3 separate regions of the Homo sapiens genome follow, and regions 1 and 3 are each linked to region 2. The links come from fine-mapping of genetic effects on gene expression. A gene starts in region 2. Each other region holds a variant in brackets. All regions are shown on one strand. Distances are from middle to middle.

The links.
Region 1: its variant is fine-mapped to the expression of PHEX in esophagus muscle (GTEx, PIP above 0.99).
Region 3: its variant is fine-mapped to the expression of PHEX in thyroid (GTEx, PIP above 0.99).

What each region holds. Positions count from the first base shown.
Region 1 is chrX:22,110,920-22,116,256 of GRCh38, forward strand. PHEX (phosphate regulating endopeptidase X-linked) reads left to right here. Exons shown (of 22, transcript NM_000444.6): 10 at 548-641; 11 at 3,539-3,667. Among named protein-coding and RNA genes, the nearest start is that of PHEX-AS1, 59 kb to the right of the region's middle. The variant C/T (reference allele first, on the strand shown) is at 2,306.
Region 2 is chrX:22,029,225-22,034,224 of GRCh38, forward strand. PHEX (phosphate regulating endopeptidase X-linked) reads left to right here and starts at 3,101. Exons shown (of 22, transcript NM_000444.6): 1 at 3,101-3,899. The coding sequence starts at 3,782.
Region 3 is chrX:22,133,067-22,138,066 of GRCh38, forward strand. PHEX (phosphate regulating endopeptidase X-linked) reads left to right here. Exons shown (of 22, transcript NM_000444.6): 12 at 457-558. Among named protein-coding and RNA genes, the nearest start is that of PHEX-AS1, 37 kb to the right of the region's middle. The variant G/C (reference allele first, on the strand shown) is at 2,444.

The DNA.
Region 1 (5,337 bases), 82 kb after region 2:
ACTCACACTGGGAATGTGTAGACACGCCGATTAACCTAGCAGGCACATCTTTGGGATGTGGGAGGAAACCACAGCACCCAGAGAAAACCTGTGCAGACTTGAGGAGAATGTGCAAACTCTACACAGACAGTGACCCTGGCCCAGAATTGGTTTTTTCCTTATCAACTGTATAACAAAAGGATGTTGAATGAAATGATGTTATTCGAGGATCTGCTGTAATTTGAAGGTACTCACAATTTCCAGACACGAAAGGCTGTGTAACAGTGGACTTTATACCCTGAGAGTGAAAGTAAAATGTTCACTCTGAGGGCTGGAGCTGGAATCTTTCCTTCATCTATCTCTGTTAGGTGGTGAAAAGCAAGCCAATTTTGGTTGTGCTTATTGACATTGTATCATCTTATGTCATTTCTCAAGTGAAAGTTCTGCATTTTTGTATGAGTAAGAGGTCCCTCGATGGAGCTTTGCCAACTGTTTCTCTCAAGATGTTCTGCAGAGCATCAGATATTGACCTAAAATACAATAAATGGGCATCTCTCTCTGTTAACAGGACCATTGCCAACTATTTGGTGTGGAGAATGGTTTATTCCAGAATTCCAAACCTTAGCAGGCGCTTTCAGTATAGATGGCTGGAATTCTCAAGGGTAAGTTTAAGAAGATTGCAGTGTTACATCGCTGGATAACTTTACATGCTGGAATAGTCCATATATTAACTGATCCAGTAAAAATCATCTTTAGGGATTAGACAGGGGGAGTTTGTAGCCCAAGCTCTATTGTTTTTGTGTGTGTGTGTGTGCCTTATTTATTTTTATTTAGGTATAAATTACATATGGTAAGGTACACTCAAGTTTTACTTTGATGGGTTATATAAAGATATTTAGAGAAATACTTGAGGCCACACATTGTTTTCAAACTTCCCCGTCTTATTAGTGTATTCCCATTTTCCCCCAGAGTTTTTAACTGGGTCACTGTAATTATAGTTTTAACATTTCTTTGTGATATATTTGTAACTATCTTTTATTCTCAGTATTCTGAATATTTAAAATGTGCATGATAGAGATATTGGATGGTAGAACTTCATTTTCAATTTGGAAATGGAATTTTGTCTTAAACTTTGCCTATACCTTCCATCTTTGAATCTATCCTCTGCTAGGTCCAAGAGGCTCCAATTTAGTTTTCTTGCTCAACTGTCTGAGATGGTTTTCCTCCACCTGCTCACCTGGCTCTTTATTTATTTATTTTTATTAGAGATGGGGTCTTGCCATGTTGCCCAGGCTTGTCTTGAACTCCAGAGCTCAAGTGATCCTCTCACCTCAGCTTCCCAAAGTGCTGGGATTAAAGGCACGAGCCACTGTGCCGGGCCTCACCTGGCTCTTTAACCTTTGCTTCTCTCCCACCCTTGCTCGTCTCCCAGTTTGTACCCATGTTACTCTCACCTTTGTTTTTGAGGCTTATGTCTGACTAATTCTCCTACCACTAGAGGCCGTAAGGATTTTGTATCTTTGAAACAGTTTTTATTTTTCTATCAATTTAAAGTTAAGTGAATGGTGAATCTTATAAGCTATGATTTCATTCAAGAGGCATTTTAGTTATTAGAGGAACTAATAAGTATAGAAATTCTTAGTGGGCCATTACTCTGGAAGAGTAGTGCAATTATTTTGGATATGCTTTGACCCTATAAAGTCACTAGCATATAAAGTTACTTTAGGGCTGGGTGCAGTGGCTCACACCTGTAATCCCAGCACTTTGGGAGGCCAAGGCAGGCAAATTGAGGTCAGGAGTTTGAGACCAGCCTGGCCAACGTGGTGAAACCTCGTCTCTACAAAAAATACAAAAATTAGCCGGGCATGGTGTCACGCACCTGTGGTCCCAGCTACTCGGGGGGCTGAGGCAGGAGAATTGCTTGAATCCGGGAGGCGGAGGCTACAGTGAACTGAGATGATGGCACCAATGCACTCCAGCCTGGGCAACAGAGCAAGACTCCGTCTCAAAAAAAAGAAAAAAAGTCTTTTTTACAGAGAACAGCATAAAACAACTATATATATATTTAGGTCATATTGATGGGTTAAGATACAAAACAAGTAGGTTTTGTGTGTGTGTGTGTGTGTGTGTGTGTGTGTGTGTGTGTGTGTGTGTGTTTGTGTGTATTTTTAACTGCTACGAATCACATAAAAGATGATGCCCAGCTGCTTTCCACCCCTACTGTGAAGAGAATGAGAGAGGTGTAAGAAGCACTGTGTGAACATTTAAGGTTAGGTATGAGGGGATGTTTCTTGAGCACGAAGTGCTAAATATAATATTGAATTGC[C/T]GAAGAAGGTTGTAGGATCTCTTTCTCTAGAGGTTTTAAAAATAGATTCATCGCTTACCTCTGAGAGAGGTTACCAGAAATCAGAGGAAGAATAGATGAAATTAAGCCTTAATCCCATTCCTCAAAACAACCTGGGTCTAACATTGTGCAAAGGACACTTCTGACCACCATTCTCAGGGCCTCCCTTCCTCCCTGCCTGCACCCCCAGCTTCCAAGGGCAACTTACACTATATTTATTTCTCTGCTTTTATTCCCAAGAGTAAACCTCTGACCCAGGTCCTGCTTGGGAAACTTCTTACTTGTTTGTAAATGTTTTCTTGCAATGGTATAATTGGGACAGATGGGCAAAGCATTTACATCTGTATTTTGCTTGTTTATCAGTGTGTTTTTTGCTGTGACACAATGTAAATATGCTCCCTGTGTTGTTCATGGTGGGCCATGTTCTTCTGGTCTGCCTTGTTGAGTGTGCTACTCGGAGCAAGGAAACCCTCACTGGGCAGGAACTTTGATCACCCACTGATTCTAGACCTTCTTAGTGGAACTTTAGTTCTCAGGAGATATTAAATATTATCTAGACACTTGGATAGCATCCTCTCATGTCCCTGCTGACTGCAGAAAAGTGATACCATTGTCCAGATTCTTTGTTTAATGGGGAAAATTGGGAAGAAAGGATACATATATTATTTTAACTGTTAAATCACTTTCTTTTCTTCTTCTTCTTTTTTTTTTTTTTTTTTTTTTTCCAGACAGAGTCTCACTCTATTGCCCAGGCTGGAGTGCAGTGGCCCAATCTCAGCTCACTGCAACCACCGCTTCCTGGGTTCACACAATTCTCCCACCTCAGCCTCCCAAGTAGCTGGGATTACAGGCATGCACCACCGTGCCCGGCTAATTTTTGTGTTTTTAGTAAGCACGGGGTTTCACCATGTTGGCCAGGCTGGTCTCGAGCTCCTGACCTCAGGTGATCTGCTCACCTGGGCTTCTTAAAGTGCTGGGATTACAGATGTGAGCCACTTTGACCGGCCTAAAACATTTTCATTTAGTTTGAAATATAATGGGGACAAGCAGAATTTTTTTCTTCAACTATTTTACCTTTGCCTCTACTATCTGATGCATATATATGGGTTAGGGTGTGCAGTGTTTTGTAGACTGTTTTCTTCAGGTTGTTTGAATTGTTTTCAGCCATGGGTTTTATCCAAATGAAGTTTAATCTGGATCAATTATCTCCCACAGGTAATCCAGGGGACCACAACTTTGCTGCCTCAATGGGACAAATGTGTAAACTTTATTGAAAGTGCCCTCCCTTATGTTGTTGGAAAGATGTTTGTAGATGTGTACTTCCAGGAAGATAAGAAGGAAATGGTAAGTGGTACTCCCCAGCTAGCAAAAAATAATGGCAATTTAGCCAGATCTGACAAGGGTATATTCAACAGGCTAATGTCAGCCTTCCAGGTGGTAGTGGCCTGTGGGTATTGTCTTCAGATTCTTTCAACTTCTAAGTGAAATAGGAAGAAAGGTCATCAAACGAGAGTGAGGATGAGTTAGCAGGTATTGAAGGTTAGAGGAGAGAGAAGGTGTGTAGTTTTCCAGGGGAGTGGGAGAGTGAATAAACTGAGGGAATGTAGTATAGCTGCTTGAGGGCAGGCATGTCCAGATGTAGGTGAGGTTTGAGGTATTGAATTTAAAGAGGGACTCATCACTGTGGCAACGTGTTCTTCTCCATCTGTTTCAACTGCATTGGAGAAAAGGGTGTATTTTTTTTTCTTTCAGCTTTATTGAGATGCATTTGACTAATAACAATTGTATATATTCGAAGTATACGGCCGGGCGCAGTGGCTCACACCTGTAATCCTAGTACTTTGAGAGGCTAAGCCGGGCAGATCACTTGAGGTCAGGAGTTTGAGGCCAGCCTGGCCAACATGGTAAAACCCCATCTCTACTAAAAAAAATACAAAATTTATCTGGGCGTGGTGGCAGGCACCTGTAATCCCAGCTATTTGGGAGGCTGAGGCAGGAGAATTGCTTGAACCCCGGAGGCGGAGGTTGCAGTGAGCCGAGATCGCGCCACTGCCCTTCAGCCAAGGCGACAGAGCGAGACTCTGTCTCAAAACAAACACAAAGTATACAAGATGATGATTTGACATACATTGTGAAATGGTTGCCACAATCAAATGAACACATCTGTTGTCACACTTATTTACCATTGTGTGTGTGGTGGTGGGGGATGAGGACACTTAAGATTTACTGTCTTAGCAAATTCAAGTATACAATACATTATTAGTAACTATAGTCACCATGCCATATTTTAGATCCCCATAACTTATTCATCTTAGAACTAGAAGTTTGTACCCTTTGATCAATATCTCCCCATTTCCCTGCCCCCAGCCCCTGGCAACTACTGTTCTACTCTCTGCTTCTATATTTTAACTTTTATAAAGATTCTACATATAAGTGAGATCATATAATATTTGTCTTTCTGTGCCTGGCTTATTTCACTTAGCATAATGTCCTCTGGCTTTATCTATGCTGTTGCAAAAGGCAGGATTTTCTTCATTTCTTCATTTTTATGGCCAAATATTCCATTGTGTGGTACACACATGCACACATCGCAGTTTCCTTATGTATTTATCCATTGAAGGGTATTTAGGTTTATTCCATATCTTGGCTATTATGAATAATGCTGCAATGAACATGAAGGTGCAGATCTTTCTTCCATATACTGATTTTACTTACTTTGGATATATACCCAGTAGTGGGATGGCTGGATTGAATGGTAGTCCTATTTTTATTTTTTTGAAGATTTTCCATGCTATTTTCCATAATGGCTGTACCAGTTTACATTCTTACCAACAGTATATGAGCGTTTCCTTTTTTTCCAGGAATATTTTGCCAACACTTACCTCTTAAATTTTTGATCATAGCCATCCTAACAGGTAGTGAAGTGCTATTTCATTATGGTTTGATTTGCATTTCCCTGATGATTAGTGATGAAAACCTTTTCATAAACCTCCTGTTTATGTGTCGTCTTTGGA
Region 2 (5,000 bases):
CCCCTCAAGCATTTATCCTTAGTGTTACAAACAATCCAATGGCAGTCTTTCAGTTATTTTTAAATTTACAATTAAGTTAAATGAATACATTTTTCTATCTGTGTTTGCATATCTTAGTTTGGGATAGAATGCATCATAATTTTCCTATTACAATTAATGAAAGTATTTTTTTTGGTTTAATGGCTTTTCACTCAGCAGTTGACCGTTCAGGAATGAATTCCTGTCGGTAAGTGATGGGTAGGTATAACTTCAGGGAATCCCCAAATTGCCCTCACCTCTGGGGGAATTGCAAGTTCAAGGCAGGTGAAGGCTACTCCAGCTAGGAACTCACGGCCACTATTCAATGTCAGTGGGGACACTGAAAGTTGTGAGGAGATTGAGAGGAGGAAGGAAAGAGGAAAGAAGTGAGTCCTGGTGTCGTGCTTGGGTGACTGTCCTCTCGCTGTGCACAGGAAGCTTTGTCAAGCAGCAGACATGCCATGTATGGCAATGATCCCATCCCCCATCTATCCATTTGTGATTTTCCCATGCCACCTGAGGCCATTCCTTGGTCTCAGTGTCCTTATTTGTGAAACAGAGTTAAAATACCTTTGCTATCAAGTATGTAGATTTACCATGAGGTTAAAGCGAATGTGCTATGCCTATATGAAGTATCACTTTTAGTTGAGCATTGAGAAGGAATAATTAGGGCCTTGAAAGATGACACCCTTCCTCCCCCCGCAGACATTAGCATGTGAGGTTCCTGAAGCTGAAGCTGGTTGTTTGTTGTTTGTTGTTGTTGTTGTCGTTGTTGTTGTTTTGAGATGGGGTCTCGCTCTGTTGCCCAGGCTGGAGTGCAGTACTGCGATCTCAGCTCACTGCAACCTCCGCCTCCCGGGTTCCAGTGATTCTCCGATTCTCCTGCCTCAGCCTCCCGAGTAGCTGGCATTACAGGCATCCACCACCACCTCCGGCTAATTTTTGTACTTTCAGTAGAGTCGGGGTTTCGCCATGTTGGCCAGGCTGATCTCGAACTCCTGACCTCAGGTGATCCACCCACCTTGGCCTTTTGGTTTTTTTGAGACACAGTTTCATTCTGTCACCCAGGCTGGAGTGCAGTGGCTCAATCTCAGCTCACTGCAGCCTCCACTTCCCAGGTCCAAGCGATTTTTGTGCCTCAGCTTCCCCGAGTAGCTGGGATTACAGTCACGTGCCACCACACCTGGCTAATTTTTGTATTTTTAGTAGAGACAGGGTTTCGCCACATTGGCCAGGCAGATCTCGAACTCCTGACTTAGAGTGATCTGCCCACCTCAGCCTCCCAAAGTGTTGGGATTACAGGTGTGAGCCACCACTTCTGGCCCCGAAGTTGGTTTTTTGTTTTGTTTTGTTTTGTATTTGTTTTTTTCCAGACAGTCTTGCTCTGCCGCCCAGACTAGAGTTCAGTGGCATGATCTCAGCTCGCTGCAACCCGCCTCCTGAGTTCAAGCAACTCTCCTGCCTCAGTCTCCTGAGTAGCTGGGATTACAGGCGCCTGCTACCACGCCCGGCTATTTTTTGTATTTTTAGTAGAGACAGGGTTTCACCATGTTGGCCAGGCTGGTCTCGAACTCCTGACCTCGTGATCCACCCGCCTTGGCCTCCCAAAGTACTGGGATTACAGGCGTGAGCCACTGCGCCCAGCTGAAGCTGGTTGTTAAGAGTAAGTGGCTAGGGCTAACTTGTATGATTTTTATTGCTCTCCTTTTCACTGTGAAGGGCCAGGAAATGTCGATGTTGGAGCTGCAACATTGAACATGGTTCCTGACTTTGTGGAACTCATGGTCTAAGATGTGTTCTAGAGTGAGGTCCAAAAACTCTTGGGAGAATCCCATACTAGGGGCCAAAGTCCTGCTAGGGTGTGTTATGGAATAACAGCAACAAAATAATGTCAACAGCCAATGAGCACAGGATAACTACAACACACCATGATGTCATAACTTGGACAAAGGCTTGTGACCCCCTGACTTTGGCGCAACATGAAATGAGCAGAAAGTAAGGTATATTATGGAATAAGCCCCAAAACTTGAGAGAATCCCATGCTAAGGGCTTAAGCCCTGACCAAGACAAGCCAGACAGGACCATGAATGTGTGGCCATGTTATACTGAGCTCATCAGCACCTGCTGAGCTCCTGTGTCACCTCTAAAGCCATGCGCACAAGTTTTGCATTGAGATAATTGCTCTACTGGTTTCTAGATATAGTTGAATTCTCCACCCCCACTCCCACTGCCCTATGACCTCCAGCAAAACAAAAGCAGGTAGGTAGTAATTGTGTTGTGAGTTAACGATATCTATATCTTTGGATAATAAAATCTATATCATTTCAGTGGTAGCATTGGAATATCAGTTGCCCTTCCCCATGAAGAAAGCACATTGTTATCGTTTAAATCATTATCATAATCAAAAATATCAAAGACCCAGTCATTCATCAGTCTTTCCAGTGAAGTCAACTGCCTTTGTTTTTTGTTTGTTTATTTTTGAGACAGGGTCTCTCTCTCTGTCACCCAGGTTAGAGTGCAGTGGCGCGATCTGGCTCACTGCAACCTCCACCTCCCAGGCTCAAGCGATTCTCCCACCTCTGCCTCCTGAGTAGCTGGGAATACAGGTGCTCACCAACATGCCCGGCTAATTTTTGTGTTTTTAGTACAAACAAGGTTTCGCCTTGTTGGCCAGGCTGGTCTCGAACTCCTGGCCTCAAGCGAGCCCCCTGCCTCAGCCTCCCAAAGTGCTGGGATTACAGGCGTGGGCCACTACGCCCGGCCTGAAACCAATTGCCTTTGAATTCATCCTGGGGAATCTGCTGAAGTGGACAGTTTATGTAAACACAAAAACATCCTAATGAATGGCTGCCTCAGTAGGAGTGGCAGACAAAACACATGGTGCACTTTTCATCAAAAACACACAAGGAAAAAATTTTTCATCATATCTTTTGTAGTTGCTAATAAACTTAATTCACGCACTTGTGTTTTTTTGTGGGTTTTTTTTTTTGTACACTTCTTAGTACCACAAAGAGGAAGTGCTTTTTCTCCTTCCTTTAAGAAAAAGTTCCAGTTCAAACCATCAGCCTCTGTAGGTTGTCTTAATTGCTACTTTGCACTGCACTGGACTATGACTGATTTTTGGCACATGCTATCATACACAAAGTTCCTGAAATAAAATGCTCCAGGATATCCTAGGAACTCTTAGAAGGCTTTAAAAAGGGACTCACACACTGAAAGAATATCTTTGATGAAGACAATTCAGGCAAGCAGAATGATTCTTGCAACAGAATTACATGATTAATTGAGATCTTGAAGTGGGTCCGGTGAATCCTGGCCACCTAACTTATCATGATTTGGGGGAGTTTCACGAGAATCCAGTTTTGATAAAACAATTGTTTTTTTCCTCCCCAAGTGACTATACATTTAAATAGCTAAAACATCTGTTCAGCAACATAGTAAAACATATATACTCGGAACGCTTGAGAGAAGAGCCTGCCAAACAGGGACTTTGCTGAGGGAGAGCACCAAGATAAAGCAACACTGTTTGTTTTGTCTAGTCAGGGGGAAAGCCAAGGCAACCAATATTTTGGTTTTTATAATTTTCATTTGTGAAGAATTATTTGAGAAAGGGTGGCGAGGGGAGATTTCCTGACGGCAGTTTCTTAAGCTGTCCATTAGTAGAAGAGCAAGAAAGCCTTGGATGTCAACGCCTCGCTCTTGAGACCAGCCACCAAACCACGAAAAGTGACTTTCTTCTCGTGTGCTCTCTACGGCCCTTCTGATGGAAGCAGAAACAGGGAGCAGCGTGGAGACTGGAAAGAAGGCCAACAGAGGCACTCGAATTGCCCTGGTCGTGTTTGTCGGTGGCACCCTAGTTCTGGGCACGATCCTCTTTCTAGGTAAGTGGAGTGCAGGAGGCCGGGGGAACTGGGTGTGTGTCGAGAAGTTTCCTTGTGCTTTATTGTAGCAAAACTTGTCATAACACAGGTATAGGGCTGTTTGCCTGCGTTCATAGGTGGTGTATCTTTAGTTTCTATCAAATATGCAAATGATAAAGAAGGCTTTTTTAAGGAGCCTAAATAAATAAATACACCCAAGTACCAAATGTATAGTCCAGAAGGCAAAGTGGGTGTAAGTGGCTTCGAGTGGCTGGCTGATTCTGTTGCATTGGGTGGAAAATTTTTTATGTGGTACATTTAGCAAAATGAGTGTTTGTGAATTCATAGTCACATAGTTTCATTTATATTTTGAGGAAAGACTTTACATTGTGATGAAAACCATGCTGGAGTGTCTTTCCATTTGACTTTTATTAATGTTTGCTTGAACGAATCATGAAATTTAATTCACAAAACACAAATCAGTCCTTTAAAGTGTGCTTTTAATGATATTCTTCAATTCCTTTCTTATCCAGTGACTCTGGTGAGATGCAATTTGATTTACAAATTAATATGAAGGAAAACAGAGGTTTTCCCCCAAGATTTGAAAGATATTGTGATTCAGTTATTTTAATGACTGTTGGTGAGAATGATGTACCCAGAGAGTATATAGGATGATAGAAGTGTATTCCCATGAAAAAGAATCAAATATCTTGGAAAGGAGTGAGGGATTTTCTAAAATTCTAGGCTTTCTGAACCCTTGACTATTACCGTTTTAATTTTTCTCATACAACCCATAATACTTCATTAACTTGAACGTTACATAGGAACGAGGAGATTCTAGGTGCAGTTTGAAATGTAGCAAACCTGCAGGAGGCCATGTTTATTTTGGCAGGGGTAAACCAGTAATTAAACTTTAAAAGAGTTAGGGTTGTGTGGTTGAAAACTGCTAAAATGAGCAAACCATCTTTCCACGCTTTCTGTGGCTGAAGATTTAGGAAATTAGATGGGTTTATTGCTTTCTGATAAAGCGAAATCTCCTACTCCTGCAACTGAATCTGTGGCTCTTGAAAACTCTTGTAAGATTTCTCAGCACTTAGGGTTTAAACAAGGGTCCTCTGCTGA
Region 3 (5,000 bases), 100 kb after region 2:
GTAGAGATGGGGTTTTGCCATGTTGCCCATGTTGGTCTTGAACTCCTGGGCTCAAGGGATCTGCTCATCTCAGCCTCCCAAAGTCCTGGGATTACAGGCATGAGCCACCATGCCCAGCTAATTTTTATATTTTTGGTAGAGATGGGGTTTCACCATGTTGTCCGCGCTGGTCTCAAACTCCTGGGCTCAAGTGATCCACCTGCCTTGGCCTCCCAAATTGTTGGGATTACAGGCATGAGCCACCATGCTGGGCCTGGTTAGTTATCTTTTAGTGGTGGAAAAAAGGGAATTTTCCTGGAAAAAGAAGTGTTGCCAGAGCATGGAGTCAAGCTGAAAGAACCCCTTACTTACCATGTTGAGTAAAGAGTCATTTCTCATGCAAGCCAATTTTGTTCCAGAAAACCTCGACTGAAGCTTCTTGGCTTTGACGTTCCCTCTTTGGGTATTTTCTTGTAGATGGAGGAATTGGTTGAGGGCGTTCGCTGGGCCTTTATTGACATGCTAGAGAAAGAAAATGAGTGGATGGATGCAGGAACGAAAAGGAAAGCCAAAGAAAAGGTAAGGATTCCTTTTGATGAAAAAAAAATAAGACTTCTGGTTTAATGGATGTTCATGCTTGACATTGACTGTGTAGTTGGTTTTTATATTGACTGAACTGTTGACTCTGAATGACCCCAGAGTTAGCTGTCTGCTTTTGGATGAATACATAGATTTTTGTTTCACCAGGAGGTAAGAGAAAATAATACCTGAATTTTTCGAACTGCATTTTCAAATACCTTGTAATTCGGCCTTTCCTTTCTCCTAATTGCTGTCTGTAAGAGGCACATGGCTTGCTGCCTGGTGAATTGTGTCATAAACCATCACTGGATATGGCAGAATGCAGAGCAGTGGGGAGTCACAGGGAGCAGCTGGAACAAGAGCCCCTAAGACACCAAAACGAAGAAAACCCATATTGGCCACATGTCCTTCTGCTCTGTGCATGATGCATGCAAATGTCCTGGGGCAAATCCTTTCCTGTAACCAAGCATATCTCCTTCCCGACCCATCATTTGGCACAAATGACCCAAATAGTATACTGATAAACTGCAGACCAGTGTTCTACCATTGCTTAGGACTACAAACGTATTTCCTAATAGAAGTGGACACTTGCTGGGCCTTGTAAAATTTTCTGATACTATGCGACACGATAAGGGAACAAAGGAGAAAAGTATTGACAGCCATGCTGTTTAAAAGTAGAAAACGGGCTGGGTGCAGTGGCTCACGCCTGTAATACCAGGACTTTGGGAGGCTGAGGCAGGTGGATCACTTGAGGTCAGGAGTTTGAGATCAGCCTGGCCAACATGGCAAAACCCCATCTCTGCTAAAAATACAAAAAAATTAGTCGGGTGTGGTGGCATGCATCTGTAGTCCCAGCTACTCGGGAGGCTGAGGCAGGAGAATCGCTTGAGCCTGGGAGGCGGAGGTTGCAGTGAGTTGAGATCGTGCCACTGCACTCCAGCCTGGGTGACAGAGCGAGACTCCATCTCTGAATAAATGAATGAATGAATGGGATCCATTTTGAATTCCAGAGATTCTGATAGAGCTGGAATTCAAGTGGGTGGAGCATACCTGCTAGACTCTTGATGGATGCTTCTCTGCAGCTGAGCATTTCTTGTATCTAGAGGTATTTTTGAAAGCTTCCTGAGTATAACAATCACCTGGGTTGCCTGGACGCTCTGGCTTTCTGGGCCCCTTCCCAGCAAGGCCTGGGTTAATGGATCATGGATGCAGGCTGAACAGCTGTCACTTTAGCCAGTCTCCGGGTGATTGTTATCACTAGGCAGGTCTGGGGAAACACTGCCTGGAGTCATACTGAGTCATACTGAGCACAAATATTTTTGCCTCAGCGTTCTGGGAATGCTTAACCTTGTTGAAATGAGAACACGTAGAGTTTTAGCAAGGATATTTTCTAGTGCTTTAAACTCATGGTACTGGAGATGGATAAACATTGCCATAGATACTTTTGTCAGTAGATGTGAAAAGGCGTTTGTTCAGTGTTTATAATGAAGGAAGAACTGGGATGGTGGGTGGCAAGGCAGCGTTGGAGGAAGACAAAGAGTAGGTTTGATTTTTTGTTTCCCCTTCAAAAATCTGTCAAAGCTGTCCTCAGTCACATAAGGCACAGGCTGATGAAGGCAAGAGCACATGGGCTGTGATGGGAAACTCTCCAGATGGTAGACAACTTTCAACACCAACATATTGTTGTTTTATGAAGGCTTCATTTATTTGCTGAGCTAGCTTGTGGTATGTGGAACAGGATGTGTCTTGCCCTGGGCAGTTGAGCGCTTAGTGTATTAAGGGCTCTTTATCCTCGCCTGACCCCACATGAACCGAAGAGGTGCTTGCATGAATTAGTACAGGACCACCAGGGTGGAGGGTGGGGTGGAGTGTGTGTGTATGTATA[G/C]GTGTTGGGGGTAATGTGTTATGAATAGCTGGATGCCAGGGGAATGTTCTGGGAAGTGCAGTCAGTTCTTTGAGCAGTGTGGATTGCAGTTGCCTCAGGGAGCTCTTCTGAGTGGCATAAGGGAGTGGGTGCCTCACAGTTGGCCCTTCTCGGCAAGTGGCCCATGGGTCCTTCTTGAAGCAGGACTATTCTCAGTTCTTCTAATATTAGACATGTTCCTGTTTGCCTCCCGAGTTGCTCTCCAGTCTTCTATTTTATTTCAATGAGAGCTGTCAGTTTTTCTTCTAAAAGCGTTCTTTGAACACTCTGCTTTCTTTGAGCTGAGTTCAACCTGCCAGGAACTCTGCTAGTTCCACGACAGGTACAAATATCAAAGGCAAATTGGATCTCACAAAGTTCCCCGACTGTATCTTGCATTTCAGAGTTCAGAGAAGTTTCTTTAACGAAATGCAAGAAAGATGGATGTTGTTGAAGCAATTTCAGCAGTTCTTTGAAGTGGGTCCTTTCCTGGACCCCAGAAGATGTAAATTTTTTTTTTTTTTTTCCCCTCAAAATTAAATGAACATGCAGTTCTTAAAATGACCTCTGGGTGGAGCTCGTGGTACTCACAAAGAACACTAGCGGCGTTGAAAGCTTTTATGCAGCTTTCTACTCCGGCGTTGTTTTTGAAAAAAAAAAAATTTCTTGCCCTTTTTCTCTGCTGTCCTCGATTTGATTGCCTTTTAATAGTCAACAAGAAAGGAGAGACTTTGCCTAATAATTCCTTGAATCTTAGATGGAAATCTCCCACTATCTTAGGGTTTTGTCTTTCTGATACTGAGTAGCCCCTGCATTAAGAAAGGATTTGCCTGCATTTGAAGTGGAGGTGAATAACTCGCCTGCTCTTCCTGGTATGACTTGGCACTGTTCTTTGGGCATGTGTTGTATGCAGTGTATCACCCAGGCGGAAGATTTCTCATCAATAATAGTGCCCACACTGGGCCAATGCTGAGTCACTTGGCAACCCATTGGGAAAGCTGGAAAAATGTTCTGATTTGTGAAAGGGAGAAGCTTTTCTTTCCCTCACCATGAAGCTCTGGACCGCAGCTAATTACAGAGCCTCCTAAGAAGTGTTAACCTCAGCATTCCATAGTGACCGACCTCCTGAACCGGGCAGGTACAGAAAGCTGCAGTGTTCTGAGGCCTAATACCTTGGCTTTTGTAGCAATGACCTCGTCTCAAAATGGAAGTGTGTGGATGTGGCTTTGTTGTACTCTTTGCTAGGGGTGTTCACTGTAAAAGATAAATGAGGATGCCTCTGCTCCCGTGAAGGGTAAATTTGTTTTCTCTGTCTCCCTGCCTTTTCCTGCTCATCTCTTAAGAGGTCACGAGTAGTTTTTGTATTGTGAAACTGATGGTGTAGGTTTCAAGTGGAAATTTAGTATCGTGAAATAAGCACCGCTTTTTGTTTAGGATTCTCTGTTCCCTGCAAGCATGTGCTCTTATTGTAAATAAGCAGCAAAGGACAGGGCATCTGTTATTTTTCTGGTGACCACAGCTGTTGAATGAGTGTCAGGTGATAAAATAATGATTTTAGGGGTGTCTTCTGGAGGATTTGCCCTTGCCAGAGTAGAAGAGGAGGATCTCAAGGTCGCTACATCAGGATTCTGACTGAGACCTGGCAGGAGAGCGTCAGATCAGGAGGAGCAACTTCCTGAGCTTGGCTTATCTCCAGCTGGATTTGACTATATAGCCAAAAAGCTGGATCCCTTCGGAATTATTTGTTTGTTTGTGCTCTTTGCCCCTGGGACCTAAGTTTGTCAGGTCACATCCAAAGAAAAATAGCAGGATGGGACTCACAGGGAGGTGGCATCCTAATGATGCTCTGAGGGAGTGGCCTTAACCTTGGCCACAGCAGGTGCAGAGAAGTCGGCTGAATGGTCCTAAATTTATTGGCATGTGACTCTCACACACAGGCTTTGAGTGAGGTGGTGAGAGTTTTCTTGCAGAGGGCGAAACAGAGGTGTAGCCCACTTCTTTGGCTTTGTCTCTAAGCTCTACCAGGCCTAGGTACTGGACTTCTCCCAGGTATGCGGTCAGGGCTCTGCTTATATCCGGAGCCTGGTGGTTCTCAAGGTGTGGTTCCAGACCAGTAGCAGCAGTGGTCCCTGGGAACTCATTAGAGATGCAAATTTTCACATCCCCACCTGCTGAGCTCTGGGAGTAGGGCTCAGTGCCTTGTGTTTTACCTGGTGATTCTGCTGCGTGAAAAGGGTTGGGAACCCCTGTCTTGTCCTTACCACTTCACAGCACACCTGCCTGACTTCCAACTGCAGCCTCCTGCATTTTGGCCAAGAGCATTCTCTCCCTGCTACAGCCTGCTTTGCTACTCATAAAGAGGGCCCAAAGGACGGGGAATGACCACACCTTCCTCAGAAGTCCTCACCCAACAGTTGATGGGAGTTGCTGTGTGTGGCCCCCGCTCCCTCATCCCTCTAGTGCGTGTTCCACATGGGCTCTGGGAGCTTTTCCAATGGGCTAGAGCTATTATACTAGCTAAGATACTCGTTGCTGACTG